Linked DNA regions of Homo sapiens: region 2 is linked to region 1. A link means that fine-mapping ties the variant in region 1 to the expression of a gene that starts in the linked region. Tissue or cell type: spinal cord. Region 1 holds a variant in brackets; the other region holds the start of a gene. All regions are shown on one strand. Distances are from middle to middle.

Evidence for each region. PIP is the estimated chance that this variant, and not a neighbour inherited with it, causes the effect. A credible set is the group of variants that fine-mapping cannot tell apart.
Region 2: it holds the start of FMO3, and the variant in region 1 is the best candidate, but not a certain one, in a credible set for the expression of FMO3 in spinal cord (GTEx, PIP 0.65).

The regions. Positions count from the first base shown.
Region 1 is chr1:171,132,284-171,149,141 of GRCh38, forward strand. The region is part of intron 3 of FMO1-AS1 (FMO1 antisense RNA 1); the gene reads right to left. It also overlaps the pseudogene FMO6P. Among named protein-coding and RNA genes, the nearest start is that of MIR1295A, 39 kb to the left of the region's middle. The variant G/T (reference allele first, on the strand shown) is at 9,447.
Region 2 is chr1:171,081,148-171,098,005 of GRCh38, forward strand. It overlaps FMO3 (flavin containing dimethylaniline monoxygenase 3), which reads left to right and starts at 9,758. Exons shown (of 9, transcript NM_001002294.3): 1 at 9,758-9,834; 2 at 11,506-11,643. The coding sequence starts at 11,512. It also overlaps the pseudogene LOC646804.

The DNA.
Region 1 (16,858 bases):
AAGCTATAGTATTCAAAACAGTAATGTACTGGCACCAAAACAGACACAGACCAATGAAACAGTATAGAGAGCCACGTAATTACCCACACATATACAACCAACTAATCTTTGACAAAAGTGCCAAGGACACACAATGAGAAAAGGATAGTTTCTTCAATAAATGGTGTTGGAAAAAATTGGATATCCACATGCAAAAGAATGAAATTGGACCCTTAGCTCACACAATATGCAAAAATTAACTCAAAATATATTAAAGACTTAAACTGTAAGTATAACATGTATATAAATCATGAAACTGTAAAACTACTGAAAATAAAAACATAGAGACAAAGCTTTTTGAGATTTGTCTGGGCAATGATTTTTTCAGATATAACCCCAAAACCATAGGCAACAAAAGCAAAAAGAGACAAATGTGACTGCTTCAAAATAAAAGGCTTCTATACAGGAAAGGAAACAACATAGTGAAGAGACAACCTATAGAATGACAGAAAAGATTTGCAAACCATGCATGTGATACGGGGTTAATATCAAAATATATAAGAAACGTAAACATGTCAACAGCAAGAAAACAAATAACCGGATTTTAAAATGGGTAAAGGACCTGAATAAACATCTAAAAAAGAAATGGCCATATGAAAAAATGCCCAACATCACTAATCATCAGGAAAATGCTAATCAAAACAACAAGATATCACCTCACACCTATTAGGATGGCTATTATCAAAAAGATGAAAGATAACAAGTGTTGGTGAGGATGTGGAGTAAAGGGAATCCTTGAATGCTGTTGATGGGAATGTAAATTAGAATAGCCATTATGGGAAACAGTATGAAGGTTCCTCAAAAAAGTAGAATAGAACTACCATATGATTCTGCAATCCTACCTCTGGGTATATATCCACAGGACATGAAATCAGTAAGTCAAAGACATGTCTGCACTCCCATGTTCACTGCAAAATTATTCACAATGACCAAAATATAGAATCAACCTAAGCATTTATCAACAAATGGATAAAGAAAATGTGGCACTTAACTACAGTGGAATATTATTCAGGCTTAAAAATGGAAAACATCTTGTTGCAACAATATGGATGAACCTGACAGACATTTTGCTATGTGAAATTAACCTAGGCCCAGAAAGACAAATACTGATCATTCTCACTTACGTGCAGAATCTACAAAAGATAAACTCACAGAAGCAAAGAGTAGTAGGGTGATTTCCAGGGGCTTGAGGGTGGGGGAAATTGAGTAATCTTGGTCAAATGGTACAAAGTTTCAGTCATGCAGGATGAATATGTTCTGGAGATGTAATGTACAATATGGTGACTATGGTTAAAATACTGTATTGTATGCTTCAAATTTGCTAAAAGAGTAGATCTTAAATGTTCTCACTCAAAAATAATGGTAACTATGTGAGGTGATAAGTATGTTAAATAGCTTATCATTTCACAATGGGGAGATATATATATATACCATGTTTTGTGCCTTAAATATACGCAGTTTTTATTTGTCATACACCTTACCTCATGGTTTGCATTCTGCACTCTGCCCAACTTTCCGTGTGCACTCTCTTGGGTATGTGCTCTTGCTCCCATGGTCCCTGTAGCTGACAACACTTTCCACCCATTTCAAACCACACATTTTTCTTCATTCTTCAAAGTCCTTTCTCAAACACTGATGAAAATGCAAATCTTCCTCCAGTCCCCTCCCACAGAGTAAATTTCTCACCCTTCTAGGTTTAAATAGCCCCTTTTAAGACTCTGTTACTATGTGAATCATGGTCAAAACTGTAGCATAGTTAACAATGTATGTGTCTTCCTCTCATCTATCTGGCCTAATGCTGTGACTGATACCTATTAAATATTTGGTACATAATAATTCCTTTTCTTTTCCTTTTCTTTTCTTTCTCTTAAGGGGAGGCAGCACATCTTCACAGTCCTGCCACATCTTAGTTGTATAATTGTGCCAGGTTAACCTGCTAAGCCCCAGTCTTTCTTCAGAAAAATGGCCACAGTAATACTTGCCTTATAAGGTACTTTTGAAAACAAATAACATAATGTGTCTAAAGTGCTTAGTTTAGTGCCTGGCACCCAGTGAATGCACATTCTAAAGTGATTATTTTTAGTGGTATTTTCCCCCATCATTTCCTGACTGTGAGGCAGTCTGAAGCATTTTACATACCATGTCCCAGAGTCTGCACTAGAACTTAGCTTCCTAGGAGACGGTACTCTGTCCTTTTTTGTTGCCACTGTATCTGTAACATTGCAAACAATGCCTGGCATGCAGTAAATGCTCGATTAATACTTGTTGAATAACCCTCTGAAGGTTCCATACTCTCTAAAGTAAGAGTATCTTCTTCATACTCTCTAAAGTATGTCTTCTCACTATTCCCATTTATAGGGTATTGGAAAAAACATAGCATCAAGTCATCAATTTTTGCTGGCTTAGCAAATTTGAACAGTTCAGTTTTTCATTAGTATATTGAGAATAATAATACCTGCCTCACAAGGTTAATGGAAGAAAATAAATGAAAAGCACTTTGAAATACGTGTCAGCATTCTGAAGATGTTCATTAATCTCAGTCTATTCTTAATCCTGTTCTTGGAGTGGCTAGTGTGAACCATTAGGGGCTGCAAGCCTCAGTGGTATGACCTATAGAGCCCTGAGCTTTAAGAGAAAAGCATGGAACTTTAAGTACAAGGAGACATGGAAAGGCCACAGAGAGGTAGATTCCCAGCTGAGGGGGAGGTAGAGAAGCTCTGGAAATGATCACCTTTATCCCTGGCCTTAACATATCTCTTCCTCCTGGGTCCTCCATAGTACTCAGGGTCAGCCTGAAGATGGTTCACCAGTAGAGAACTGCTGGCGCTGAAGAAGAAGAAGACACTGTGGACAATGTTCTCCCCTTGTTTCATGATCTTGCTCACTTTGGCCTATCAAATAACTCCAGGGACTTCATCTTTTAGTTGATTAAGTACCTGGGATACCACCTTCTTATAGCTCTAAAGACACTGCCAAGCTATGAGAATGCAGGGGGAGGCAGGAGATCCACAAGGTCTGATTTTCCTGATCATTTTTGAGTAACAGGACTTTCTGTGATCTCATTAAATCACAAATGCAGTCTCAATCCGGAAAATAGATCCCATCATATGTGATAATCAAAACCTTGGACTTTACTTTCAGCTGTAATCTTTTCAGTATTACCTTCAGCTGAACCTGCAGCTAGGAGAAGCCTGAGGTCCTGGAAGGCAAGCATGAGGCTTTTCTCCTATATCGCCTTATGCTTCCACTCCTCCTCCCCATGATGCTGATGGAAAAGTTTCCAACCCTTTCAGAAAATTATATTTTCTGTCTTTGAAAAGCTGACATTTTACAAATCTCTTAATTTCTTAATACACTGAGGTGTATGCAGGAAATTAAGAGATTTGTAAAATGTTGAAGGGATATTAGTAATTACTTAATCCAATTTGCTTATCTTACAGGGGAAGGATCTAAATTCCTGCAAGAATTATCCCAAAATATACAGCCAAAGAGATGAATCACTGAGTTTTTAACTATAATATTAGATAACAGTATGAATATTTTTAAAATTTATAAGAAGACAGAACTGGCTTTCATTTAATATCATACGTATTACAAGAATTGGAAAGCTAAAAAACCACATTTCTAAGACTCTCTTGCAGTTAGGGATTGGATGCAATTAGTTTTGCCAGTGAGACAGACATCTAGGCTCAGAAGGCAAAGGGAAGCAAAAGCTAAATTTTCGTGACAATGCTGATGGGCAAATGTATTCCAACAGGTGTGCTTATATCAGCTGAACTCCATGTTCCACCTTTTAGCCCCCCAATTTGTATGTTGCAGGCATCTGTGGTGATTGAAGCAGTTTCCTGCCCTCTGGATAGTAGCTCTAGTGGTGTGACCTCTCCAGTCCTGCAGCAACCTCCTAGTTCCTGCTCTTTCAGCTCTTTGACCTTTTGCAAGCACCTAATTCCCTGTAGTATATACCTTTCTTCATGATATATAGTGTTTTTTATCTCCTGCACTAAATCATGAGCATATGCATATAAATCATAATATGAAATCTTAAAAACAGAAGTACTTTTGCTGAGGCATTAAGCATATAATCAGTCAGCAGGTCCCCAAACATCTAATTCCTGAATATCTCATATATCCTGTCTCCATTATCCATTCCTCTAATGCTACTCTAATTTAAGTCCTCAGTCTCTCTGGCCTAGATTGTTGAAATAACATCCTGGGTTTTTGGTCTCCTTGATTCTAGTCACCATCCTCTCTAGCCTCCAGGTGAATCTGATCTTGTCTGATGTTGTCACTTCCTTGTTCAAAATTCTCGAATGGACAACCGTAATCCAGAAGGTAGTATCCAAACCTGTGATTGTGGCACTTCAGTATCCTTCATAACCTATGTCCTGCATGTTTAACCCATATTTTGCTATTCCCATCACTTATGGTCCAGCAAAACTGAACTAATTGTAGTTCCCCCATCACGTGTTCTTACTTTTCTATGCATTTTCACATATTTTTCTCTCTGCCTTTTTTCTATTTCTTGTCCCTTATCTGTCTGGAAAACATCTATTCTTCCTTCAAGACTCAGCTGTCTTCTCACACTCCTTGAAGCCTCTCTTTCCTCCTCCAAGTGGACCTAGATTTTTCTTCCTACATGCTAGCACTACACTGAACCATACTTCCACTGTGACATTTATCATCTCCCTCAACACTAGACTTCATGGTTCCAGATGGAAAGCACTGTGTCTTCTCACCTTTGAATCCCCCAAAAGACTATTATAATGCATGACATATAGTAGGCTGTCAGTACAGTGAAAGGAATGGCCAGAGGAAGGAAAGGAGGGAAACAGAAGCAGAAAGGACAGGTATAGAAGCCGGAGGGAGCCAGAGACAAGGTTCAGAGACCACAATTCTGTCTTTTGAGTTCACTAGTTTTACAAGCTCATCTATAAGCGTTAGTTCAGCAACTCAGATCAGGCCCTAAGTTTCCAGAAATTTGAGCTACTTTTCACTGTTGGCACAACAAAACGTTTCATTATAGTCCAGGTGCATAGCCTTTGTTTATATATTCTATATTTCCAAAGCAAACATAAATGAAAGAATCATTGTTCCCCTAATCTCCCAGGAGTTTCACCTTACAGCTCCAGTGGCCATGGCAGTCACTGTTTTATATTTTTTGTAACAAGAACCAAAGACTTCATTCTTGCCTTTTTCCTACCCCTTTCTTTTTACTTCACCCATGCCTCCCCTGTTCTTCTCTTATCCTTACCACACTCAGTCCTTCTCTTTCAGATTTTACTATGGCTCTATACCATTAAAAATACAAGAAAAAAAAGGAATTTTACTTTAAGAATAACTCCTCCCCCTTCCCCAGTTTTCACATCAAAAGACATTGTTAAATGCCATTCTCTTCCACATTTCGAGAACTGCTGATTCTCTGGGGAGAGAAAGGTGATTGCTTAAGAGGTGAAGTCCCTTAGAGCATTCAAAATGAGGAGTGATTCTGTACAGAGGATATCATGCAGCAGGCTGGATGTCTAGTTCCAATTCCTTTATTTGTTACCTCTGAGACCTTGAAGAAGTAGTTTCTAGTCTCAGCATACCAAAGCGTCATCTGCAATTGAGAGCATTGGATTGATGATCTTCAAGGTCCTTCCTGCTCTAGCATTCACTGAATCTGCTATTTTTGACATATTGAATAATCAGAAGCAGCCAGTTTTAGAATCTTATTATAGCAAAAGTGGTAAAAATAATGAGCATATACTATCAATGTGCATCTATGTCTTCTTATGTTTGAGTGAGGATCCTGATACATAAACCTTGGCTGATAATTTCTACTGAAAAAAATCGTAAGTATTAAAGACACTCTTCTGAAGATGTTCTCTCCAGACTCTGCTACAGGCAATCATGAGCAAGAGGGTTGGCATCATCGGAGCTGGAGTCAGTGGCTTGGCTGCCATATGGTGCTGTCTGGAGGAGGGGCTGGAGCCCACTTGCTTTGAAAGGAGCGATGATGTTGGAGGCCTGTGGAAATTCTCAGTGAGTGGCACATCATTAGAACACCAGTGGAAGGAGATGGATTCCAATGCAAATCAAATCTGATCAGTTCTAATTCAGATTTAGAAGGCAGATCACAAAAGCTCCAAATCTGGAAAGTAAAATCTTACCTCTCCAATCATACTAATGCCCAAAAAAACTATTTCATACCAGCAAAATTTGTCCTGAAAAGGACATTTTCAGCTCATTAAACATCATCACCTGCATGGTGAAATCCAGATCTCCAAGCTGTAAAGGGCACTAATGTTGGTAATTAGTCAAAAATATACCATGGGCTTCCCAGGTAAGTGAAACAATTCTATTCTTTATTGCTCTTAAATGCCAGGAACACGACTAGAAAAGAGACAAACAAACCTGGACTGAGATCCTGAGGTCAGAAGTCCTGAGTTCTAATTTCAACTTGTAGGTTTTCTAGGCAGATAAGATTTCAGTCCAGTTGCTTTTGTTTCCCTGGACCTCAAATGCTCATTTGTCAAATGCAGAGGATATGATTCTATAATTAACTTATGTCTATTGGGCAGATAGAAATTATTATAGATGATGATTGTGTGTGCGGCTGTTGAATAGCCTATCAGCTCCAAATCCAGAGGGAAAAATTATGGTCTTTGCCATTTGGGCTCATTGTAGAAATAATATAATTAGGAAATAGTCCTTGTAAACACATTTTTTTTTTTAATTTCAAAGCCAAGTTTGGAGAAACTTCTAGTTCTTCTGTCCTGGATTTCCCAGCCATTGTAATCAGTTGTCGATGATACATATTTGGCTTGAAAACATATTCACATCATTCATATTGTAACTACTTCCTGTCCTGGTCTCAGTTACTGCTCTGCCTGCGCCAATAGCCTCCTCCAATAGAGTATATCAGTGCTAACTTAGAACACATTTTTATTCTTCTCCAAGCTTTTTTTAAAAAAATTTGTGGTTTTGTAACCCTGAAAGCACTCCATGAGATATAAGGTCATTAATTTTTATTTCCCAGTAGGGGGTAATCAAGAGTTAATATTTTTCAAGAATTTAATTTTCCCTATTTACATTTGCTCAGGGAAATGTGGACAGCTTAGAGTAAATCATAAAATGGCTTTCTACCATCTCCCTAGTAACAATTAAATGATGCTTGAGCATCTATTCTGGTAGTTTGTGCTAAGTACTGGGATGACAAATATGGAATATAATCACTCCTTGTAAATGGTTCCATTTCATTTGATTAAGCAAGCCATAATATAATTCCGTAATCCTTTGATAGCAAATGGGCAAAAACTCATTTGATAGCCGAACCTCTTCTGAAATCGTAAGGTTAAATACCGTGAATTGGATCAACATGAAGCTAAGTCTCACCTTCTGTTGCACGGCAGAAATTTTATTGCATTTGACAGATTGCTGCCCCAGATCTCACTAGGAGTATTATGGAGCAAAATCCAAAAATGTACACATTCCAAAATATATCTGGCCCTAAGACTTTTAAAATAAGAGATTATATAACTACAACAACAAGATAGACCTTGTCACCATCAATTCAATGGACGAGTGCCTCGAGCGTTTAGAAGAGGGTGGACTACGGAAATCTTAGTAGGTCAAAGAAAACCTCCCACAGGGATGACACTTAGCCTTGAAGGATAACCCCAGACAAGCAAAATAGAGGACCACCTGTGACACAACTCCTAGAGAGTGCATTTCCCAATAAAGTCTGCGAATGGCACTCCATAGGCCTATGCAGTCATTGGCAGTGTGCCAGCACCAGGTTAAGAGAGACCAACAATCCATGAAAGGCACAGAAAAGGCAATGAACATGGTGTGTGCAGAGAGGGATCCATGAGTTATCCAATATAGCCAGATCAGAAAGTTTACTTAAGGAAGCAATAATATGATACAAAGATCAGTAAGATTCAAAGTTGGATTCTGAGTTATCCACAAGAGGAAATTCTTCTTTTCCATAAGGTCATGTCTATAAGCAAAATTCTACTCAAAGTCCTGGTGAGGATATGGACCCATACAAATACTCAAAACTTTAGCCTCCTCCACATACCCCAGCCCTTCCTTCTTTTCTTAGAAAAGTTGCTTGGCACAATATATAATCAGAGAGGGATTTTTTTTATGTGTTACATAAGACTTTATCTTGTAAGCCTTTTTTAGAAGGTGTTCTAGCAGACAGAAACGTGGTAATTCTGAACTTTTCACTATTTGCTTTTTCTGAGAAATGAAAACCAAATGGGATTTAAATACTAGCAGGCTGAATGTGTGTTTTAAGTTTCATCCACTCCTAAATAGGGCCTCGTGTCCTCAAAAGATTTCATTACTGCTGTAATAAGAAGTTGCTCAACAGCCAGGTGCGGTGGCTCATGCCTATAATCCCAGCACTTTGGGAGGCCAAAGCGGGTGGATCACGAGAGGTCAGGAGTTCAAGATCAGCCTGGCCAACACAGAAAAACCCCATCTCTACTAAAAACACAAAAATTAGCCAGGTGTGGTGGTGGGTGCCTGTAATCCCAGCTACTCAGGAGGCTGAGGCAGGAGAATCTCTTGAACCCAGGAGGCAGAGGTTGCAGTGACCTCAGATTATGCCACTGCACTCCAGCCTGGGCAATAGAGAAAGACTCCATTAAAAAAAAAAAAAATGCTTACCAATAGGTTAGTAGCATTTTGATTGCAAAAGCTGAAGCCAGGACTATTTGAACTTTTTCCCACTCATTTATTCCTTTGTTCATTCAATGAATACATACTGTGTACTTTATGTGTAGGGTACTATATTAAGCATAAGCTGCAGATAAGAGGCCAGCCAGCACTTTAAAAGCCGTGAGAAAACAAGTATCAGAATAACTATAAGTGACTATATAATTAGGGCAATAAGGATAATGGGACCTTAGTAAAACTAAAGATGATTTGGCAGTAGCTGAGAGGGAAGGTAAAGAAAGCCATGACAAAGTTGAAGGCAACTTTTGAGCATATTTCAAGGGCATATTTAGACAAGGAGATATGGGACTCATAAGCAGAGCTGGAATAGGAAAGAAGATCAAGGTAAACTGCTTAGATGCATGTACAACATTCTGAAATTAACCTCTGACTTTGCCCTCAAGTTACTTATGTTCTCGTGGGAAAGATGAGAGATGAACACGGTTATCATCCAAGACAGATGGTGCCCACAGCTGCTTAGATCTCTGGTTCCAGGGTAAAGCTCCCTCAGCTAGAGGCAGAGTCAAAGTTGAATTTCCTCCTTACTGGCTCAAACCACACCTCATATTGAAATAATAAAAATGCATGCTCCCTGGAGCAACTGACTTGTTATCTAATACATTTGCTTTTTTGTGTTTGTTTGGAGAACAGTCTTTTCGGAAAAATTCCAAGGAGCTGTAGTGTACATACTCTTCTCTCCT[G/T]GTGTTATAATTGGCTGAGGTCAAGGGGCAAAAAAGCAGAGATTCATTCAAGATGGAAATATTCCAAGGCCTTAGCATCTGTTTCCCAGAACAGAGTCTTACATTCTTTAACCAGGCTCCATCCCACAGTTCAGCCCTGCCTCCTTTCAACAGGCAGCTGAAAAAACCTCCTTCCCACCTCTCCTTCTTCTCACAACCATCAGTAGAAGGCGCTAGCTGTGGGTGAAAGGGAAGCACTCAGCCTGCCAAACTGCTGGACATGAGCCTTCACCCTTTTTCTGACCTCCACAAAAATTTTAAAAAGTTTAAATTCCTGTGCTTCCACGCTTATGAGAAATACAGCAACCATGAATAGAGGAAGATTATGTTTTCAACTTGAGAAAAAATACTGAGGCTTTGGGCAGCCCCCCACTTCCCCACGGGGACACAATCCTCTCAACCCTTTCCAGCACTTTTTGTTTCCCTCTTCCAGAGGTCATCTGGTGTGAGAGGGAGAGACACATCTTGAATCCAGCAGCAACGTGACATTCCATCTCTTTCCCCCCATTGCACAAGAGTCCTTCCGGACCTCGGGAAGCAGAAGCTGCCAGCTCTGAAATGTATTTTCAAGGCAGCACATTGTGTGCACTTTTACCCTACCCTCACAACTGAGAGGAAATGTTTATTTTCAATTTAGCTTTTGACTGCTTCTAAAAAATAAGCCACTTTTCAATTACACAGAGGCTTTAAAATGAAGTGCCAAGATTTAACACATGTTCTAAGGGCTCTGGTTTCCTGTGTTTCTTTGGTGAGGAGTGAAGTCCAGCAACTGGTGAGCCAAAGAATAGGATTCATTTACAACAGAGCAGTGGTTCTCAAAGTGTGGTTCCTAAACCAGCCACATCAGCATCACCAGGAACTTGATAGAAATGCAAACCACCCCAGACTCCACCCCAGACAGATTGAATCCGAAATTCTAAGAATAGGGCCCAAGAATCTACGGTCTAGGGAGCTTCCAGGCGATTCTCATTACGCCAAAGCTGGGAAACCACTGCAATATTGGGTTGTTGCCAGTGAAGAGTTTGCTAAACTCCAAAAGCAAATAAATAGGCTAGAAGTCAGAGCCTCTTCTAGACAGTTTTGTTTTTTGTTTTTTTTTTAACCTGAGTATAAGATCAGAACCAGTGGTGGCACAGGAGAAAGCAAAAACCACTAAGTGGCTATAAAGACAGAGCTAACACTGAGGGTAATTACAGTAAGAGGATTCACATGGAAAGAGCTCCAGTTCTGTGCCAGGTGCTACGCGAAGGGCTTTCCATTCCTTATCTTACTGAGAGCTTTTAATTTTTGTTTACGCTTTTAAACATGAAAAGGGTTTTAGTCAACCAAGAATTGAACCACTGTGTTCACTGAAGGGAACACAATTCTTGGCTTTCTCTTTAAGCTTTCTTATTCTCCCTAGGACCACACAGAAGAAGGCAGAGCCAGCATTTACCAGTCTGTATTCACAAACTCTTCCAAAGAAATGATGTGCTTTCCAGACTTCCCTTATCCGGATGATTACCCAAACTATATACACCACAGCAAGCTCCAGGAATATATAAAGACATATGCTCAAAAGAAGGATCTTTTAAGATACATACAGTTTGAGGTAGGGGTCTCATAACTTGTACTGTTGAAATTAAGATATGTGTGGGTTAGAGAAAAAGGAGGCAGCAAACTATTATAAAAATTAGAGCCAAATGTTTGGGCACCTCAGTAATCAAATGTTGGCTCTGATTATAAAGCATTCATGCATTGATTTTTTCTCTCCTAGACTTACTAGTTCACTAGTCTCTGAGAGCTTTCAGACTACCTTAGAAAATGGAGGCAGCTAGCCCATCATTGTCCACTTTCCACCCTCATGCTCTGATGTTTTGGAAATAATCCAAAATGCTTTAGTATATATTAGGAATTTTGTCAGTTCAATGCCAATGAGTTGTGGTTCAAAAAACCAGAGCATTTGGTAGGGTTTCTCCCATTACATTATGAAAAGGTTAACAACTTAAATGGGAAATATAGTCATTGCCCCCATCTTTACCCACTCAGTTCATTAGTTTTTTTATTAAAAAGGTGAGATTTCAGCATTGTTTCTGCGAGAATAATGTTTTACATTTATTTGGGACTCTTTATTGAGCATTTCTGTCTGTATGTTTGGAACTCTTAACCTCAATTAACTGCTGCTAAATGCAGAACACTTGCATATAGTGGGAAAAACAATCAGCAAAATTATGAACCATGGTGATATTTACATCATTATTTTACCTGGAGTAGCCCCAAATGTATAGTTAAAATAAAATTTTCCAATAGTCATTTTATTCCATTCATTCATTACATTCATTTGCTTCCATTATGGTGTTAATATCAACAAACATTAATGAAGTTCCTATTGTGTGCTTGCATTGTGCTATGTGTTATATGTAAAAGAAAAAGAGGTCTAAGACTTAGCTCTCAAGAAGTTATTTCAAAATAAATATGTAAAGAGTAAGTAAAAAGATTCCAGTAACAATTTCAATCAAAGAGAAAATTTTTTAAAGCTCTTTATGATTTGTTTATAAATAAAACAATGCTATGGAGATCATGAAGCAAGAGGCAACACTTTGGGGGAAGGTATTTTCTAGAGGAGGTAAAATTTAGTTGTATTTAGTAGGTGTTTTAGATAAATGAGTGGCATGAGTAAAATTAGAGAGGTGGGAAAATGCCCTGCTCATTTGGAGAACAGTGGGCAAACCAAGTTGGTTAGGAGGGAGATATATATGCTAGGATGAGATATGGCCACATATATCAGTAAACTAGTGTGTACTGTGACTTTGAAAAATAGAGGATTATTTTGCAACCATGTAAAAGAAGTCCAAAGAAGGGACATCCAGAGCTTATGTGATGGCACCAAAGTTATCAAAGATTCAGCTTCACCCATCTTAGCACGTGGCCTACATCATGACGTTTGCCTTGTGGTGCAAAACAGTTGCTGAAGCTTGAGCCGTCACATCTGCCTTCTAGGCAAAAAAAAAAAAAAAAGTAAAGAATGAAGGGCAAAGGGATGTTCTCTCAGCTGAATCAGCTCCCCTTTTACAAATTCTCCTGAAAAAACTGTCCAACATTGCTTATATCTCACAGGCCACCCTAGTTGCACAGGAACCTGGAAAATGCATCCCTTTTCTGTGTATGTTGTCGCTCCAAACAAAATCAGGGTTCTGTTAGTAAGAATGAAGGGAGAATGGACATTAGGGAAGCAATTTGCAGAATATGTTCCAGAAAAGTCTGTGGGAATAACAGAAAATAAAACTAAAAGAGTAAATTGGAACAAAATTGTATGGACTTAATAGTAATCGCATTCAAAATGTAGAATAAGTTTTAGAGGCTGTGAAGTAACAGAAATTGAGCAGTGAATTGAGCAGAGAAATTGAGAAATGAATATAGTCCTTCAGGAAGATTAATCTGACAAGCAGGACAAAGGATGGCTTGTAGGAAATGGGAGGCTGAAGACAGGCTAGGTATAGGTTCTTGCCGTAGTCCATGCAAGGGAGTGATAAGGACTTGAATGAAGGCAGTGTTAGCAATCATGGAAAGAAAGCGTGAGATTGGGAGATAAATACTGTTTAAACATGAGGCAAGGATGGAGAAATAACAAGGAAAACAAGTCATGGATTTGAAGCATAAGTGGCTGGGAGTTTCATGTCATCATTCAAAGAAATAAGAAAGTCAGAAGCCAGTTTCAAAGGAAATTTAAGTAGGTCAATCAAAACCTGCTACATATGAGGAAGTATTAGGTGGCCCTCCAGATGGAAAGGTCAAGCTAAACTGGATAGAAGAGAGACCAAGGATAGATGTATTTGTATATTCATACCACAAAACTTGCTAATTTTTTTTTTTTTTTTTTGAGACGGAGTCTCGCTCTGTCGCCCAGGCTGGAGTGCAGTGGCGCAATCTCGGCTCACTGCAACCTCCGCCTCCCGGGTTCACACCATTCTCCTGCCTCAGCCTCCTGAGTAGCTGGGACTACAGGCGCCCGCCACCACGCCCGGCTAATTTTTTGTATTTTTAGTAGAGACGGGGTTTCACCATGCTAGCCAGGATGGTCTTGATCTCCTGACCTCGTCATCCACCCGCCTCGGCCTCCCAAAGTGCTGGGATTACAGGCATAAGCCACCGCGCCTGGCCGTAAAGTTGCTATATTTCTAAGATAAGAGTATTTATGCAGAGCAAAAGAGATGCCAACGATCAAACCTTGAGATATTCCCATACTTATTGAGTAGATGGAAGATGAGGTCAGAAAAGGAGGAAGCCATGTCAGTAGAGGGTAGCCATAAGAAAATAACACAGATTTGTTATATGACATCATTCACAAAAATATTCAGTGTGATTTACCCCTAAATCAACTAACTTGATGTCAAAAAGTAAATGTACTCCAGTGAGTAATTTTTCTTGTGAGATTCAAAGACTCACTGAAGATTCACTGTGACTCCAATTTTACTATCTTTCTATACATTTCTGAATGACCAAGAGAGCTCGTAACAATTATTTCCTCCACAGAAACAAGGCAAGAAGGAAAAAAACTTTCACATGTAGAATTATAAATGGAAAAATAAATTTTCTAGTTTTCTTAAAGACCCTGGTTTCCGGTATAAAGAAATGTCCCAGCTTCTTAGTCACGGGCCAATGGGTTGTTGTTACTGAAAAGGATGGGAAACAGGAATCTACTATTTTTGATGCTGTAATGATTTGTTCAGGACATCACGTATACCCCAATCTGCCAACGGATTCCTTTCCTGGTAAGTTTGGAAAATATATAATAATCTAGGGACTTATATGCAAACATCAAGAGTTAGAAACATATCTTTCTATAGGTATTACATAATGATTATTCTTAGATTTCAAAAGAAAAAAATTAAGTTTAATGATAGGATATAGTAATAAATAGCCTCATAAGTCCTTATGTTAAAATAATCAAGGACTGCAAGCCAGAGATCAGACAAACACAAGTTCCTGTTTTACAGACAGTAACTCAAATATAAGTTCTAACAGCACACGGGGTCTCCGAGCACAGTTACATTAAAAAAAAGTAGAGTCCAACTGCCAAATGGTTTAAAGAAAGACACGTTTACTTATGTTATTTATAGGAGACTCCTAGGTTTCTAATTTCATCTTCATCCACAATTTGCAAATAAACTTTAGAAATCTCAGTGATTTGTGTGTGGGTACACACATGGGTGTGTGTATAGCAGCATACTTCATTACCATCCGAAAGTGGCAAACCTCAAATAAATACAATATACATGGAGGCTTCCTTCCATTTTTCCTTCCTTCCTTGCCACAGGAACACAATCTACTCAAAGATATTAGAGTTTCCATGTCTAGGTATGATGTCCATAGGCCGAGGAAAATTAAAGAGTGAAGGTTCAGGAGGAATATAAGATTAAAACTCTTAATGTTAACGGGCAGCATATTTAATGTTTATGAGCATGGGATCAGAACACCTGGCCTCAACTTACTATTCCACTAGTTCCTTACCACTTACCTTCTTTGTCTCAATTTCCTCTTCTTTTAAAATAGGGACAATAGCCCACCATGCAGGGATGTTATCAAGATTAAATAGTTAAAACGTGTAAAGCATTTATCAGAGGATCTAGCCCACAGAGTTAACTTAATAAATATTAACCATTATTATTATCGAAACATACATTCTCATGCCTTAAGATTTTTTAAGGAACTAAAAGTAAGTTTTAGGGGGCTTAATGTCAAAAAATGCTAAATGGATAAATGCACTTCAACTAGGGAATTTTTTAATTACAACTGATAATAGGTTTAAAAAGACACAAAGAAAACATCTTCATAATTTCTGAAAATCAGTTCAAACAACTTGCCATGTTCCACTTAGGCCTGGACCAGTTTCGAGGCAACTACCTCCATAGCCGGGATTATAAGAATCCAGAAGCCTTCAAGGGGAAGAGGGTCCTCGTGATTGGTCTGGGGAATTCGGGATCTGACATTGCTGTTGAGCTCAGCCGTCTGGCTACACAGGTACATGACGTAAAGGTTTTGGGAAATAAACCTAAGGTAGGGCTGTGCTACTAAATCAGTAGCCAAGGCACAGAGGATGGTACTTCTATGTCACACCACAAGAGATCCACCTCTTCTATGTGGCCCTTCAAATCAAGGAGGACTTGAGACATCCTCCATGTGAAGCCAGGTAATGTGGCCCGTGCTAGTAAGGAAGTACATTCCACTGAATCCAGAAGTAAGTGCATGAGTGCGTGTATGTACAGATGAGTGTGTATGTGTGTATTTCTTGTTTTCATTTTATATTCTGATCACCTCCAAATAGACTAGTTCCTGGTCAGGCTTAATCTTTATTTATTTAACAGTATTTATTATAACGTATCATGCAAAAAGCACTGTGTTTACCACTCTGAAGTTCTGAAAGATATGCATGACTTGGTATTTACTAACATTAATTCAATCAACAGCAGATGCTCAACAAATATTGGGCACTTACTATGCTTACTATGTGTCAGAACTATGATAAACTAAAAATAAATGCATAAATAAGTTAGACTAGTTCCTGACTTCAAGAAAGAGTCAATGGATGGAGATGGAGTTGACAGGTACACACAGACTATCACCAGAGGAGATGGTGAGTCTTCCAGTAGAATTAGGTGTGGCAATAGCAACACAGGGAAAAGAGAATCTAACTTAGCCTGGATGAGGTCAAGGAAGACTTCCCAGAGGACTCCAAGCTAAATCATGTATCATCGATAGACCCTAAAGAAACAACATATTTTTAAGAAAACAGGTTCTCAATAAATAAATTCTTAAATGGATGTAAATAAAACCTAAATTTTTTAAACTAAAAATTCCCTTCAGTTATCACAAAGTTAAAGTCTATTTTGCAAAGACGGTAAAATAGATAAGCAGCCAGACTCATCTCAGGGCTGAGGCGGTTGCCATGGTTTGGGTTGCTCAGGAGAAGTCCTTGGGGTATGTGTATAGGGAGAACTGGAAAAGGCAACCAGAGACAGAGAACAGAATTAAATCCTTGACATCTCGTCAGCCTAATTTCAGCTAGAGATTTAGCTACACTTTTCCCACACCTAGTCCACTATCACCAGCCACAACCACTGGGGCTCACTGGATCATCTGGTCCCTACCAGACTTGCCATCTTAGTCTATGAGTATGTGAAGATTAAACCATCACAGTTGAACACAGAGCCCTGTTGTTCCTAGAGGTATGATTCTAATCCTTTCAACAACTACACACCAGCCCTCAGGGGCAGTGAAAGAATCCTGTCTCTACTAGTTTAAATTTTAGACTTTAAAAAAATTTTTTTTTATTTTAAGTTCTGGGATACATGTACAGAACATGCATAGGTCTGCACATGCCATGGTGGTTTGCT
Region 2 (16,858 bases), 51 kb before region 1:
TATTTTATGACAAGTTCTGTACAAAGTGGCTTTATAGATTATTGCATTTCTAGATGGAAACAAGCTTCGTTAATCAGCATTATATAAATGATGTTGTTTCCCTGAGTTTTATCTATTTGAGATTTCTGGATCCTGAGTGTAATAGAAAGGATTCATTTAATGTAGGAATTTACTACTATAACACAATCCTATTAATATCTTCATTTTATGAAACAGAAAATTGAAGCTCAGAAAGATTAAATAATTTACCTAAGGTCAAACATCCAGTAGGTGGCAGAAGCAACTTTTAAATTCTAAACTCCATGCAAGTCACACAGGTTTTTAAGAGTATCTCAAACACACACTCTGGAATAAAAACCAGATGGCCTTCACTATAGCTAAGTTAATCATAAATATAAGTAGCATTGCTGTAAAAAACATGAAGCAGGATGCTGATATAAATGTCCAGTTACTCCTTGTTGAGGAATTGACCAGTGTAGTCTGAACTCCTAGCCCATGTGATCAAGGGTACCAAATCTAGTATAATTTGGTCTAGTTTGCACACTGGGCTCTCTTCATTTGTAAACTCAGCAATTCTCATGGTGAGGGAAGTTGTTTGCTTTCTTTGAGTGGTGGTAGATGGGGAGAGTGTTTCAGGGGAAGTGACTCCTTTCTAGGCTTCACCCTTCATTTTTGACCCAGTAGGCTCAGGATGAGGCCTGGTAATCTGTTTCATTTTGATTTGTAATCCATTCACGTCAGCTTGCCGTTCGCTATTTAAGAACCATTGCTCTCAAGCATGTTTCAGGGCAATACAGATTTGGTTTAGCTTCAGTTTAAGTGACGAACAAAGTCCACTTTAAGTAATTCATCTTTTATTTTCTAGAGCTGCTGTGCTTACCTCTGCTAAAAGCTGCGAGACATACTGCTTTAACCTACAAAAGCTTCTCCGAAACAGAAGTGTATATTTTTGTGCCAATATTTTTCTTACCAGCTGTGCTTTCTTCCAGGGAGATCGTGCTTTGCCACTAAATGAGCCTGTGTGCAAAAATACTCTCTGCCAAGTAGAACCTTGCTGTTTCATATTCATCAGCTAATTTATTCCTGTGACCACCTTTTGCAGTATGCCTATTTTACAGATTTTTTTAAAAAGCAAATTTAAGAAAGGAAATAACTTTCTCAAGTTTATGCAGCTGATACACACTGGAGGTTGAGTTTCAAATTAGGTCTGCCTGATGCTAAATTATTTTCCTTTGACTTTTCTCTGTCTTCATTTTCTCTCCTGCCTTATCCGTTGCCCACGTGTTAAGTCCCATCGTGTTACCCACAAGCATACCTTAGTCTTATTCCTGGCTCTTAGTATTGAGGAAGTTGTCAACTTTGGCATTAGGTAGGTTTTAAACTGGATGTTCTGTTCATGTATGAATTTTATGAATAATTCATTGGTTTGGTGCCCACTAAAAGGACCAACAAGATTATTTTCTGGTAATTGCAAGTTTCATTGTGAAGGTTACACATAAATTTTTTCTACTCCTTATTCATTCATCCAATAGTTTAATGCCTGTGTTTTATTGTCAAGGTCGATTTATTTGCCAGGAATATGAGGTCTCTGCTTGAAAAGAAAATAGTTTTGTTATCTTTTTTTTTCCAGATCTGGTCATAATCCCTAGCAAAGATATACTGGTTAATGTTACCAATAGGGTAAAGGTCAATGAAAAGCAGTAAAACAGTATTTGTCAATGTTTTATGAATTTAAGTGGACTTAACTGTAGAGAAACTATTAAAAATCATAGTCTTCTCCTCTGTACTAGGCTTCCTATTCTAAAATAGGGCTCATTTTTAAAACTTCTGACCATTCAGTAAATAATTTTGTGATCAACTATGTATGCATAGGGCATCGTGCTGAGGAAAATCCAAGTTAGACTACAAGACATGACTCCTACACTCTGTAAGAACTATCATCCATTTTCAGAAAGAAAAATTTATGTAATGATAATGATAACCAAGGAATTATAACTAGCGGATAAAGTGAAAGTTCAGATGTCAAAGTAAACAGAGACTTCTTTGAGTTGATGTAATTCCTGAGAAAAAAATCATTTTACTATATAATAGAGATTATATAACAACTTTAATTTTCATCACAAGAGAAAATACTAAGTTATGTGCTTGAACAAGTTTTTTGCTGCTGTTCTCTGGCGAAAAGATCAAAGAACATTTGAATCTCTTCCAGCACCTCAGAGGTCAAGCCAACAAAACTAGCTTACAAATATACTAGGTCTCCTATAAACAAATATATGCTGCTTTTCTCCAACATGGCCGAGCCCAGGAGAGGTGGTGTGCAAGTATCCATGACGGCTGTCTGGCACTAGAGTGGAGAGGGTAGCGAAGAACAAAGCACTTGCAGGGTGAGAATCTGAATCCGGCCTGAGCTGAAGAGGAGAGGCTTGTTGTTGCCAGTGTTGGTTTAGGTAATGGTGTGAGTAGAAACCAACTGCTACTGGTTTTAGAGAAATGTGGACTGGTGGATGCTCTCTTAATGCCACCTTACAAGCCCTACTCATTTGAAAGATACAAAACTACAGAAGAATCTAAGAGAGCCTATGTTACTCTCAATGGGAAAGAAATAGTGGATGATTTAGGACAAAAGATGATTCTGTATTTGAATTTTGTGGAAAAAGCACAATGGAAGGAGTTGGGGCCTCAAGCCTTACCACTAGTCCTCATAGTAGTAGAAGAAATAATTTCTACTGAGGATGAGAAAATTCTTTTGGAAAGTGTTGATCAAACAAAAGATACAGACCATCAAAATTTTCAAAAATGCTTAAAACACAGAAGAGTAAAGCATTTTGGTTATGAGTTCCACTGTGAGAAAAACAATGTAGATAAAGATAAGCATTTGCCTAGGGGTCTTCTTGATGTTTGTGATAGCTTTTTGGAGAAATGGTTGAGGGAGGGTTACATTAAACATAAACCTGAACAATTGACCATAAATCAATATGAACCTGGGCATGACTGTCATGGATTTTAAGTACCCAGATGGTATCACAGTGCCAGTTATTTTGCCTTGTTTGAGTTGGCTGGTGATGACAGGAGAATCTAGATACCTTTGGGCCCATGGGTTACCCTTTGGCTTGTGATAGCCAGAGGAAAGAGACTCCTCCCTCCTTTCCAGAGAGTGATAAAGAAGCCTGACAACTAGAGCAAGAGTACATCCATCAAGTTTATTAATAGATTGCTGGGCACTTCAGCAGCATGAGATATACAGCTTGGCCACACATCATTGAGTTTTTGAAGGCTTTGCCAAGTGGCTTAATAGTGGCTGATACTGGATGTGGTAATGGAAAGCACCTTGGCATCAATAAGGAGTTAGATGTGATTGGTTGTGATCAGAGTCAAAACCTTGTGGACATTTGTAGAGTGAGACAATTCCAGGCTTTTGTTTGTGATGCATTGGCAGTACCAGTCCACAGTGGGTTTGGTATGCCTGACTCTCCATTGCTGTTATTCCCCATTTTGCAACAGCAGAACATAGAATGACAGCTCTTCAAGAACATGTTGGACTCCTGAAACCTGGTGGGAAGGCACTCATTTATGTCTGGGCAATGCAACAAGAATATATTATAATAAACAGAAGTCCAAGTAGCTTACAGGAAACAGAACTAGCCAAGGAAAGAGAGAGGAGATAAGCAGTGACACCTCAGTGCAGGGGATGGTTGTGAAGCAAATGCCTGATGTGGGCAGTCAAGACTCAGCATCTTCTGTCTCCTCCATTAATGACTCTTAGGAGGGAGGATATAATTCAAGGCAAGTTACTAATTCCAAGCTTCCTATTCATATTAACAGGACTTCTTTTTGTTCTCGGGATGTACTGGTCCCCTGGTACCTTAGGGGAAACCCTGATAAAGACAAACCTGTTGAGCAATTTGGTCCCATATGATCCTATGACCCAAGTTCCATGTTTCATCATTACTTATGTGTTCTTTGAGGGAGAATAGGAAGTTGCCTGCAGGACTGTGAGTGATTTCAGCATTCTGCAAAGCTACTACGATCAAGGAAATGTGTGTGTGATTCTTCAAAAGGTCTGATTATTTACCTGAACATATCATGTATAAAAAAGAAATGCTCATTTTGTTTCAAAAAAAGGAGAATAATTATCATTTTAATTAAAGAGAAAACTAAGAAACTACCAAAAGAGGGCTCTTGAGAAAAATTTGGAAGTAGAGATTCATTAGGAGACATTCAGTCAGCTACTGTTGGCTGACCTCATAGATGTAGTCTCCTACAACTTCCCTACAAGAGATGGCTTCTAAAAGCAATTAAAGTAATTTGTGCAGTGCTTGTAATTCTTGGGTAAGAGCCCACCATTTTGAAGATAACCTTTTGTTATAAAGTGTTACTGAATGTACTAAATCATGTAGGATCTTAGTGAAGTAATTCTACCACATTTTAATAAAGGAAATATTTCTGGTTAATAAAAAAACAAATATATGCTAATCTTCAAATTAACTTGACTAATCTATTTATAAAAGCTATACTATTCATCACTATAACATTTTTTATTGTAATATGTAACATTTTCATAAACTTTAATGCAGACATGAATATCATGCTAACATCAGTCAATAGGGTGCCTGTTTTGCAGCTTCTCTTGCCTTCCTGTGTGTTCCTCGGTGGCCTATCAGTCTCAGGTGCAGTATGTGGACTCTAAGAATGAAATGATCAGATTCTCTGGCATGAAACTCAAACTACTGTCCTTATTTCTCATTTTTTAATTGTAGTGTCTAAGTGGCTTCTGTGTTACTTATGGTCCAATAAATGATGTGTAACCTCCTCTTGATGGTATTCTGGAGTCGGGAGAGGTAGTGAAATGGAAGAATAACTCAGGTGTATCACCTGTTAAACCCAGGAGGTGGAGGTTGCAGTGAGCAGAGATAGTACCACTGCATTCCAGCCTGGGCAACAAGAGCGAAACTCCATCTCATAAATAAATAAATAAATAACTTGCTGAGGGGGTCCTAAATTTTAAATATATACCACTGTTGTCAGACACTTAGGAGTGGAACTGGAAAACTGGCAACGAAGGAGATCACTGGAATAAGTTACAGAGAACATCTGTCACTAATACTTAGAACATTATCTGGAATATAATAGACACTCATTTACTAGATTAAAAAATGAAAAGTGTATATGAATGCAGCTTAATGTGCCAATGAAAGGCATCATGTGCATTCTCCTTAGTTATAAGTTCCAACCAGCTGCCCTTCATTTTACATATTTTCTATTTTGGCTATTTAATATGCCACGCAACTCAGCATGCTGGACAGTGCACGTGTGTCTGACTTGTAACTAGTCAGCTACAACTACAAGTTGAATTAGTTAATTAACCTCTTTCACATTTTTAGGTCTAAAAACAAAATAGGTGTGTTGATCTATAAGTGGGTCTTGATGGCAGAAATACTTCCCCATAGTGGCATCTGGAAATATATAGGGGTAGTCTTTTCTTTTTCTATGCCTAGTAGTTTTCACTGGCATTTATTGACTTAGATACTAGGTAAGCTAAATACCCTGCAATCTTAAGGATGATCTCACACAATGAAAAATTGCCCTGCCCAGGCTGACTTGCCATAGTGCTCAAGCCTGTAATATTAGCACTTTGGGAGGCTACAGCTGGAGGATCACTGAGCCCAGGAGTTTGAGACCACCCTGGGCAACATAGCAAGGCCCCCATCTCTACTCTACAAAAAAAGAAAAGAAAATTTGCCAGGCATGGTGGCACTCACCTGCAGTGCCAGCTACTTGGGAGGCAGAAGCAGGAGGATCTCTTGAGCCCAGGAGTTCAAGGGTGCAGTCAGCCATGATCGCACCACGGCACTCCAGCCTGGGTGACAGAACAAGACTCCAACTCAAAAAATAAAGAAAGAAAAGAGGCCGGGCGCGGTGGCTCACGCCTGTAATCCCAGCACTTTGGGAGGCCGAGGCGGGCGGATCAAGAGGTCAGGAGATCGAGACCATCCCGGCTAAAACGGTGAAACCCCGTCTCTACTAAAAATACAAAAAAATTAGCCGGGCGTAGTGGCGGGCGCCTGTAGTCCCAGCTACTTGGGAGGCTGAGGCAGGAGAATGGCGTGAACCCGGGAGGCGGAGCTTGCAGTGAGCCAAGATCCCGCCACTGCACTCCAGCCTGGGCGACAGAGTGAGACTCCGTCTCAAAAAAAAAAAAAAAAAAAGAAAGAAAAGAAAAATTGCCTAGCCCAAAATGTTATAGTGAGATCGTTCATAAATTTAATCCTTAAAGTTCTTTCAAGTTCTAAAATTACATGATTCTAAGTGGAAAGTACATTTTGAAAATTATTGTTTTACAATGCAGACATGAGTATCAGGCTAACATCAGCCAATAGGGTTTCTGTTTTCTTCCTCTTTTGCGTTCTTGCGTGTTCCTGGCTGGCCCATTACTTTCAGGTGCAATATGTGGGCTCTATGAATGAAATGGTCAGATTCTCTGGTGTGAAACTCAAACTACTGTCCCCATTCCTCATGCATCCAAAACTAGCCTGGAAAGTCTTTTTGGCCATTATACACCAACCCAGTTCCAGGTGATAGAATATGAGAAATGGAATGGAGCCTAAAAGGCTATCTTGTCCCCTCACCTCTACTGCCCCAAAATTACCAAAGCAACCAACACAAGGGTTCTTTCTCTAATGAGCGATGAAAGTGATCTTTCTTATTCCATAAGGCTCCTGCTCTGGAAGGCTCTGGTAATGGCGACCATTTTCCTGGTAACTTAGGGTTATTTGTAACTCCAGCAGCTGCCACAGAAGGCTCAGATGGGAACTCAAAGTTGTAAGATAAGCTCTTCATTTATTTTCCTTAATCAGGGCTGTCTTGGTTTTCCTGCCCCTGGGGCAATAGTGGCAATGTGAGGAACAGAGACCTTGCCCCTTTGTAAAGGAACAAGTGGAGTAACCACTCTGGACCTATCATTGGACCTGACTTTAACTCAGTGTTTCTCAACAGTGCAACCAAATGTCAAAAATCACAGACAAACATTGTTTGCACTTGCTTGTTAGTTCCAGGATTAAATAGACAGTCTTTTATTACCTAAGTTCTAAAATGTTTTGGTTTTATTTTTTCCCTATCATAATTTTTTAAATTTAGTTTTCCTATTTTATTTATTCTAAGCTCTTTCATCTACTCACATATGATGACCCCCAAAGGTAAAGCATACTAACCGCTTCTTATATATACATTCATATTTTTCTCCCTGATCAAAATCCATTACAGATCATATGAGTATGTCTATGTGTGTCTGTGTTCACATTTATACAGATTTTTAAAAATCAGCATTCATTTTTGAAATAAGGATCATATTATAAGCACTTTTTTGCATGTTGCTTTTTTCCTTTCTAGTACTTTAATGGGGTATTTCTCCAAGCTATCTGTTAGCTCTAATTTACAGAATAATTTATTCACTTCTCTAACAAAAAGCATTCATTCTATCTCATTTTTGATACTTTGAACAACACTGAAATAAACTTTTTTATACAATTTGTTAAAGCATGCTTATATTTGTATTTTTATAAGATATATTCCCAAAAGTAAAATCACCTGATCAAACAGCATATATCTTTTTTCTAAAGAAAAACTGAAGACACTTTATTTTTATCATTATTGAAGTTAACAATTGACAAGCCCATTAGAGAAAACATTTTACATAATTTTACATCACTGACTTAGAGCCCACACATACATGACAAAGATAGCTAAAAACATATGAAAAAATATATCTTTGGAAATAAACACAGCATTCCTCTGGCTATGAAACTAAAAAAGTTTGAGACACTTTTTAAACTTGTAGCAGAAGATGCAACAGACTGTCAGCTTCATTTAGCACTGCCTGCACTAATTGTTGTTCACTCGATTCTTTACGAGATATTAGCTTCAGAATATGGACCCTAAAGAATCCACATCTTTGGAATGTTCCATCATAGCTTTGATGATCAAGTCTGAGTCTCCAAAAGCCACTCTCATTTTATAGAAATCTTTCAACTGTTATGCATCATCAGACATGACAACAGGTGTCACAAGAGATATATGCCTTGCCTCCAGCAAATCAATTAGAAGAAAACAAAAATTTCTTTAAAATACAAAGAAAATATAGAGCAAGAGAACAGAATATAAGTCTTCCACTCATATCCTCCAACAGCAACAATAATCTAGCAACCATCCAGGGATGAAAGTTTCTTCTTAGCAGTTTTGTGATTTGGAGGGGACAACAGAGTAGAGAATGCCCACTGCCCCAACCAGAGCCTGGGCATTTGAGATTCTGAAGATTTAAAAAGGGGCTCTGCAGAAAGCTGTGGCAAGCAAAGGATAGGCTAGAGAGAGACAGGACTAATAAATGTGTCGACTTCAGATACATTCTTGTGAAGGACAGCAAAGAATAGGTGGCCTTTTCACCTCCTAGAGAGATAAAACATCGGAGGCCAAGGTAGAATTGGGTGTGTCCTGCCAATCTTTAAATGAATAAGGCTATAGGAGTAGTATTGCTTCCTGAAGTAGTCACAATCTTTTCTTTGCATTATTTTAATTCTATTTATGTAGCATTAAAAACTGAAAAGAAGTTCTATGTAAAATGAGAGCAGAGAAAATCATGTTGTCTGAATTGCAGCCCTAGAAAATTTCATGAACCTATGACTTGTTTTTAATTTTTATCTACAAGTCACATTTGCTCATTTTTAACTACATGCCACATTTTATATGTACCTATGTATACATGTATTTATGTGTACATACCCTTTAATCCTCTAATCCTTGTTAAAAAAAAAATAGCCAGACAGGAATTAATAGTGTAGTTATCCCTATTTTATTAATGAGTAAATCAACGATTGGAAAGGTTAAGTGATTTGCCCAAGGCCACAGAGCTATAGAAGTGATTTGGAATCTCTCATACTCACACTTCAGAGATGAAGATTACTGTCTTCAAAAGGCATGAAGGGTAATTCCTCAAAATTAGACATATACCAGTTTACACTAAGTATCACTTGCTTAATGAAGGAGTTAACTAGACAAAATGAGTGAGATGTTATAATTCTAAGTGACATCAAAATATAGTTGATAGGAAAACTTTTTTTGAAATTCTACTATATTTCATGACTGGGAGTTAGGTGCAGTTTATTTTGTCTAACTGCCAACATAATTTTACCTGGTACTAATTTTACCTGGTTCCTGGTACTAATAGATCAATTTGTGGAATTTTGATCTTTTCTGTGACCACACACTGTACTCAGAAACAAGTAAATATAAGCTTGAGAAATACAGGCCTTTGACCCCAAAATTCCAAGACAGGACATGAAAAGAGAGAGCAGAGAAAAGTCATCCTCCTTATTGGGCTATCTCAATTAAGTAGCTAAGTTTCTACAGTATTTGGAGGACTACTATGAGCTACCCACAAAAGAACTAGGAATAAGGAAAACAAGGTAAACTTTCAAATAACACATAATAAAATGGAGTACAGAACTGCAAAGTCACCTGGGAGAAACTACTTGACTCCCAGGCCAAGGGTCCAAGAGTATAACCAGCAGCTTGTGTTTACCATAATCAAAGGAAAAGTAGAAACTGGGTGGCCATGGGAGACTGGCCTACAGTCCCATCCATCACAGAGGGTTGGCGTGTGCTCACCCATTCAAGGACCAATAAATGAGTATCTCTTTAAGAGCAGCTCCTCCCATTTTTCAACAATCTTCCTAATATGTAGGCTCACTAGAACATTTTCTCTTTCAAACTGCCCAGACGGTTGGACAGGACGTAGACACACAGAAGAAAAGAAGACAAAGAACGGGTAGGAAAATTAAAAAGGTAGGAGGCTGAGGCGGGTGGATCACCTGAGGTCAGGAGCTTGAGACCAGCCTGACCAACATGGTGAAACCAAATCTCTACCAAAGATACAAAAATTAGCCAGGCGTAGTGGTGCATGCCTGTAATCCCAGCTACTTGGGAGGCTGAGGCAGGAGAATCACTTGAATCTGGGAGGCAGAGGTTGCAGTGAGCCGAGATCACACCATTGTACTCCAACCTGGATAAAAGCGAAACTCCGTCTCAAAAAAAAAAAGAAAAGAAAAAGAATAAAAGGTGATATAGTAAAGGGTTGAGGGTGGGATGGGTAAATGAAGAAGGAGCATGCTGTAGTTTTATACCAAATATGGCTAGAATGAGAATGATATAATTCAGGCAGTTTGTTTGTTTCTGGGAATCACGGATCATGATGTTTAATCATCCAAGTCTATTTCCCTGCATAGCTATGTGATTTTGTCTAAAAAGAAAAAAAAAAGTAGTGAAAGAAGTAGTGGTAGAGCCTAAAGACAGTGTCAGGAACAGAAAAAAGTTAGGAAACGTAATTTTCTTAGAGGGGAATGGACGCTGAAGGTAGTGGGAAAAAATTGTTTTTAGGTAAGAACATGACTTCTTTCCCCAACACCCCCCGGAGAGAAGGTCTCACTCTGTCACCTAGGCTACAGTGCAGTGCTGTAACCATAGCTCACTGCAGCCTCAAACTCCTGGGCTCAAGCGATACCCCAGCTCAACAGGACTATATAATCCCAGAGTAGCTGGGACTATAGGTATGCACCATTTACTTGTCTTTTTAATTGAGAAGGTGAAGTACATTATTGATGGGGAGAAGGGGTGACTACCTGGCACACTGAAATACAGACATCTTCAGACCTTGTTCCTCATTATCCGTATCTAAGTAAAAAGAAGATACAGATTGCGTGTGTGTGTGTGTGTGTGTATGACTGTGTGTGTGTATACATATACATATGTGTTTCTTCATTCCCATATACAGGCATATGTATGTGGGTGGGTGGGTGGATGTGTCTACAGGTGTTTTAGTTGCGAATCTTTATTTCTTCTGCTTACTCTTTTTGGTAGACAGTAAATGACAAAGTCCAAAAGCAAAAAAGATAAATATGTATGCTGGGTCATCAGTCTCTTAATTTTGGAGAGCTGATGACTAAAAACAAAGTGCTTATTTTTTTTTCAGAAGAAAACTTTCTCTTTAGAAATTAGAGAGAAATGAAAATGTAGTTAGATCACTAAAAGGAATTTGTTTTCTAGAGACAAGGTCTTACTCTGTCACCCAGGCTGGAGTGCAGTGGTACAATCACGGCTCACTGCAGCCTGGAACTCCTGAACTCAAGTGATCCTACCGCCTCAGCCTCCTGAGTAGCTGGGAGTACAGGCATGTGCCACCACACCCAGCTGATTTTGTTTGTTTTTTGTTTTGTTTTGTGGAGACAGGGTCTCACTCTGTTGTCCAGGCTGCTTTCAAACTCCTGGGCTCAAGTGATCCTCCCACCTCAGCCTCCCAAAGTGCTGGGATTACAGGCGTGAGCTACCATACTCAGCCAGTGTTTATTAAAAAGTAAAGTTTTTATTAAGCCAAAGAGCGAAATCAAAATAAATAGATAAATAAGTAAATACATTTTCAGCAATGTTGTTACTGGAAATGTTCTCTGGGCCTTTGCACAGGTTACCATGGGGAAGAAAGTGGCCATCATTGGAGCTGGTGTGAGTGGCTTGGCCTCCATCAGGAGCTGTCTGGAAGAGGGGCTGGAGCCCACCTGCTTTGAGAAGAGCAATGACATTGGGGGCCTGTGGAAATTTTCAGTGAGTAGCATGTTGTTGTAATAGACAGGAAAATAGGTTGGGAAGTGTATAAGAGCACACTGTGTGCACACAGGTTTCCAAACCTGCTACCATGGCAGTTATCATATCTGTTAGAATTGGAATCCACTAAGTACAGTGTCAAGAGCAGGTTGGAAAGTAACCTCCTTGCAAGTCAGAAGTAAATTAGACAATGGGCTTTGAAATTCTCCATTACAGTTCTCCCTTGATAGATCATTAATAAGAGCCACTTGGACATAAAATTAGTGGTAAATATTAGTTAGGTTTATGTAGTTATAATTATTTACTCATTTAAAACACAATAACTTTTCACATCTTTTTTTTTTTTTACAGATTTAGGGGGTACAAGTGCAGTTTTATTACATGGATATAATGTATAGCAGTTAAGTCTGGGCTTTTGTGTAGCCATGACCCAAATAATGTACATTGCACCCATTAAGTAATTTCTCATACCTCAACCGCCTCCCACTCTCCTACCCTTCCAAGTCTCCAATGTCTATTATTCCCACATTCTATGTCAATGTGTATACATTATGTAGCTCCCAATCGTAAGTGAGAGAATATGTGGTATTTCACTTTCTGTTTCTGAGTTATTTCACTTAAGATAATGGCCTCCAGTCCCATCCATGTTGCTGCAGAAGACATAATTTCATTCTGTATTCTCGCTGGGTAGTATTCCATGGTGTGTGCATATATACATACATATATATGTATATGCGTCTGTGTGTATATATACATATATGTATGTATATACCACATTTTCTTTATCCAATCATCCTTATTGGACAACAAGGTTGATTCCATTTCTTTGCTATTGTGAATGGTGCTGCGATAAACATATGGGTGCAGGAATTTTTTTTATATAATGACTTCTTTTCCTTTGGATAGATATCTACTAGGGGCATTGTTGGGTCAAATGGTAGTTCTATTTTTAATTCTTTGTGAAATCTCCATACTGTTTTCTATAGTTTATATTCCAACCAACAGTGTTTCCTTTTCTCCACATACTCACTAATATCTTTTTTTTTTTTTTTTTTTTTTTTTGAGTGGGAGTCTCACTCTGTCTCCCAGGCTGGAGGGCAGTGGCGCCATCTCAGTTCACTGCAGCCTCCACCTCCTGGGTTCAAACGATTCTCCTACCTCAGCCTCCCGAGTAGCTGGGGTTACAGGTGCCCACACCCAGCTAATTTTTGTATTTTTAGTAGAGACAGAGTTTCGCCATGTTGACAAAGCTGGTCTCAAACTCCTCAGCTCAGGTGATCTGCCGGCCTCGGACTCCCAAAGTGCTGGGATTACCAGCATGAGCCACTGCGCCTGGCCTTTTTGACTTTTTAATAATAGCCATTCTGACTGGTGTAAGATAGTATTTTATTGCGGTTTTAATTTGCATTTTCTCTGGTAATTCGTGATGTTAAGCATTTTCCCATATGTTTATTGGCCATTGGTATGTCTTTTTTTGAAAAATGCTTATTTATCTCCTTTTTCCCCTTTGTAATGGTGTTATCTGTGCTTCTTTAAAATTGAGTTGCTTGAGTTCCTTATAAATTCTGATATTTGTCTTTTGTTGAATGCATAGCTTGCAAATATTGTCTCCCATTCTGAAGGTAGTCTGTTCACTCTGTTAATTATTTCTCTTTATGCGAAAAAGATTTTTAGATTGTCTATTTTTATTACATTTGCTTTTGAGGCCTTAGTCATAAATTCTTAGTCATAGCCTAGGTAAAAGAGTTTTACCTATTTTTTTCTAGAATTTTTATAGTTTCAGATCTTACATTTAAGTCTTTAATCTCTCTTGAGTTCATTTTTGTATATGGTGAGAGATAGGGGTCCACTTTCATTCTGCGTATGGCTATCTAATTTTCCAAGCACAATGTACTGAATAGGGTGTCCTTTCCCCAGCATATGCTATTGTCAACTTTGCTGAAGATCAGTTGGCTATAGGGATGAGGCTTTATTTCTGACTTCTCTATTCTGTTCCACTGATCTATGTGTCTATGTTTATACCAGTACCATGCTATTTTAATTACTATAGCCTTGTAGTATAATTTGAAGTCAGGTAATATGATGCCTCCAGTTTTGTTCTTTTTGCTTAGAATTGCTGAGGTTATTTGGGCTTTTTTGGTTCCATATGAATTTTTAGAATTGTTCTAATTCTGTAAAAAATGGCATTGATATTTTGTTAGAAATTGCATTAAGTCTTTTGGGCATATGGTTATTTTAATGATATTGGCCCTTCCAATCCATGAGCATGAGATGTTTTACCATTTGTGTCAGCTACAATTTCTTTTATTCATGTTTTGTGGTTTTCCCCAAAGAGATCTTGCACCTCTGGTTAAATGGGTTCCTAGATAATTTTTCCATTGTTGTTGGCTTTTCCCATTCATTTGGTGAGGCTACCAAAGTGATTGGGACCATGGATTTTAAAGTTTCAGGTGCTGACTTTGGTCTTGTGAAACTACAAAACTGAGAATTGCTTTGAAGTTCTTCAATGCCCCTTTGTCCCGTGCATATGTAATAAGGGTTCTATTAGCAGACATGCATGTATGCACTCATTAAATCACTTCATGTGTTGCCAAACAGCAGCAGGAATGGGGCTTCCCTATGTTCTCCACTCAATCAGTACAGTCTTCCAGCCTTATTGCCTGAGTCTTATTTTTCTTCTTCTGATAAACCCATTAATATATATGCAAATTTAGGAAGATTAATGACCCTTTTAAGCCACTATTTCCTCCTCAAATGCAAAATCAGTATTATATTATTTACCTCAATGAAAAGGTTGTATTTAATGAAACAGTGTCTGTAACAGCTGTTTAAATATTATAAAGACATGAGATATCATTCTTATTAATATAGATATTTTGCAGACTGCAAAAAACTCTTGAAACCACCCAGCATCTTTTCTTAAAAATATGGTATGTTTCTTTTATATATATCTATAATAATATAAATATATATTTAATATATATTTATATATTAAATATATAAAAAATATAAATATATATTTATATAACTATATAGATTAAATATATAAACATATAATTATATATATAATATAAATATATATAAAATATAATTATATTATATATAATTATAATATGTATAAATATATATTTATATAATTATATATAATATATATTTATGTATTATAATTATATATTTATAATTATATAGATATATTTTATATATTTTTATATATTAATATACATATTATATATTAATATATAATATATATTATATATAAATATATAATATATATTATATATTAATATATAATATATATTAATATTTTTATATAATTAATTATTATATATTAATAATATAGTAATTATTATATATTGATATGAATATATAATATATATAATTATATATAATATATTAATATATATTTATATCAATATAATATTTATATATAAATACATAAAATATATTATTTCATACATATTATATAATTTTATATATATAAATATTATATATATTATATATCTATTATATATCATATATAATATTTATATATAATATATAAAATATATAAATATATATAAATATATAAAAATATATATATTATAATTATATATATGTTATATATAATTACATATATATTATATATGTTATATATAATATATATTACATATTTTATATATTAAATATATATTAAATACATAATATATTTTATATATTAAATACATAATATACTTTATATATTAAATACATAATATACTTTATATATTAAATACATACTATACTTTATATATTAAATACATACTATACTTTATATATTAAATACATAATATACTTTATATATTAAATACATAATATACTTTATATATTAAATACATAATATATTTTATATTTAAAATATATATTTTATATTTAAAATATAATTAATATAATTATATAAAAATTAATATAATTATATTAAAAATATATATAATTAATATAATTATATTAAAAATATATAATTAATATAATTATATTAAAAATATATATATTTGTAATTATACTTTAAGTTCTAGGGTACATGTGCACAATGTGCAGGTTTGTTACATATGTATACATGTGCCATGTTGGTGTGCGGCACCCATTAACTTGTCATTTAGCATTAGGTATATCTCCTAATGCTATCCCTCCCCACTCCCCCCGCCCCACAACAGGCCCCAGTGTGTGATATTCCCCTTCCTGTGTCCAAGTGTTCTCATTGTTCAATTCCCATCTATGAGTGAGAACATGTGGTGTTTGGTTTTTTGTCCTTGTGATAGTTTGCTGAGAATGATGGTTTCCAGCTTCATCCATGTCCCTACAAAGGACATGAACTCATCATTTTTTATGGCTGCATAGTATTCCATGGTGTATATGTGCCACATTTTCTTAATCCAGTCTATCATTGTTGGACATTTGGGTTGGTTCCAAGTCTTTGCTATTGAGAATAGTGCTGCAATAAACATACGTGTGCATGTGTCTTTATAGCAGCATGATTTATAGTCCTTTGGGTATATACCCAGTAATGGGATGGCTGGGTCAAATGGTATTTCTAGTTCTAGATCCCTGAGGAATCGCCACACTGACTTCCACAATGGTTGAACTAGTTTACAGTCCCACCAACAGTGTAAAAGTGTTCCTATTTCTCCACATCCTCTCCAGCACCTGTTGTTTCCTGACTTTTTAATGACTGCCATTCTAACTGGTGTGAGATGATATCTCATTTTGGTTTTGATTTGCATTTCTCTGATGGTCAGTGATGGTGAGCATTTTTTCATGTGTTTTTTGGCTGCATAAATGTCTTCTTTTGAGAACTGTCTGCTCATGTCCTTCACCCACTTTTTGATGGGGTTGTTTGTTTTTTTCTTGTAAATTTGTTTGAGTTCATTGTAGATTCTAGATATTAGCCCTTTGTCAGATGAGTAGGTTGCGAAAATTTTCTCCCATTTTATGGGTTGCCTGTTCACTCTGATGGTAGTTTCTTTTGCTGTGCAGAAGCTCTTTAGTTTAATTAGATCCCATTTGTCAATTTTGGCTTTTGTTGCCATTGCTTTTGGTATTTTAGACATGAAGTCCTTGCCCGTGCCTATGTCCTGAATGGTAATGCCTAGGTTTTCTTCTAGGTTTTTTATGGTTTTAGGTCTAACATTTAAGTCTTTAATCCATTTGAATTAATTTTTGTATAAGGTGTAAGTAAGGGATCCAGTTTCAGCTTTCTACA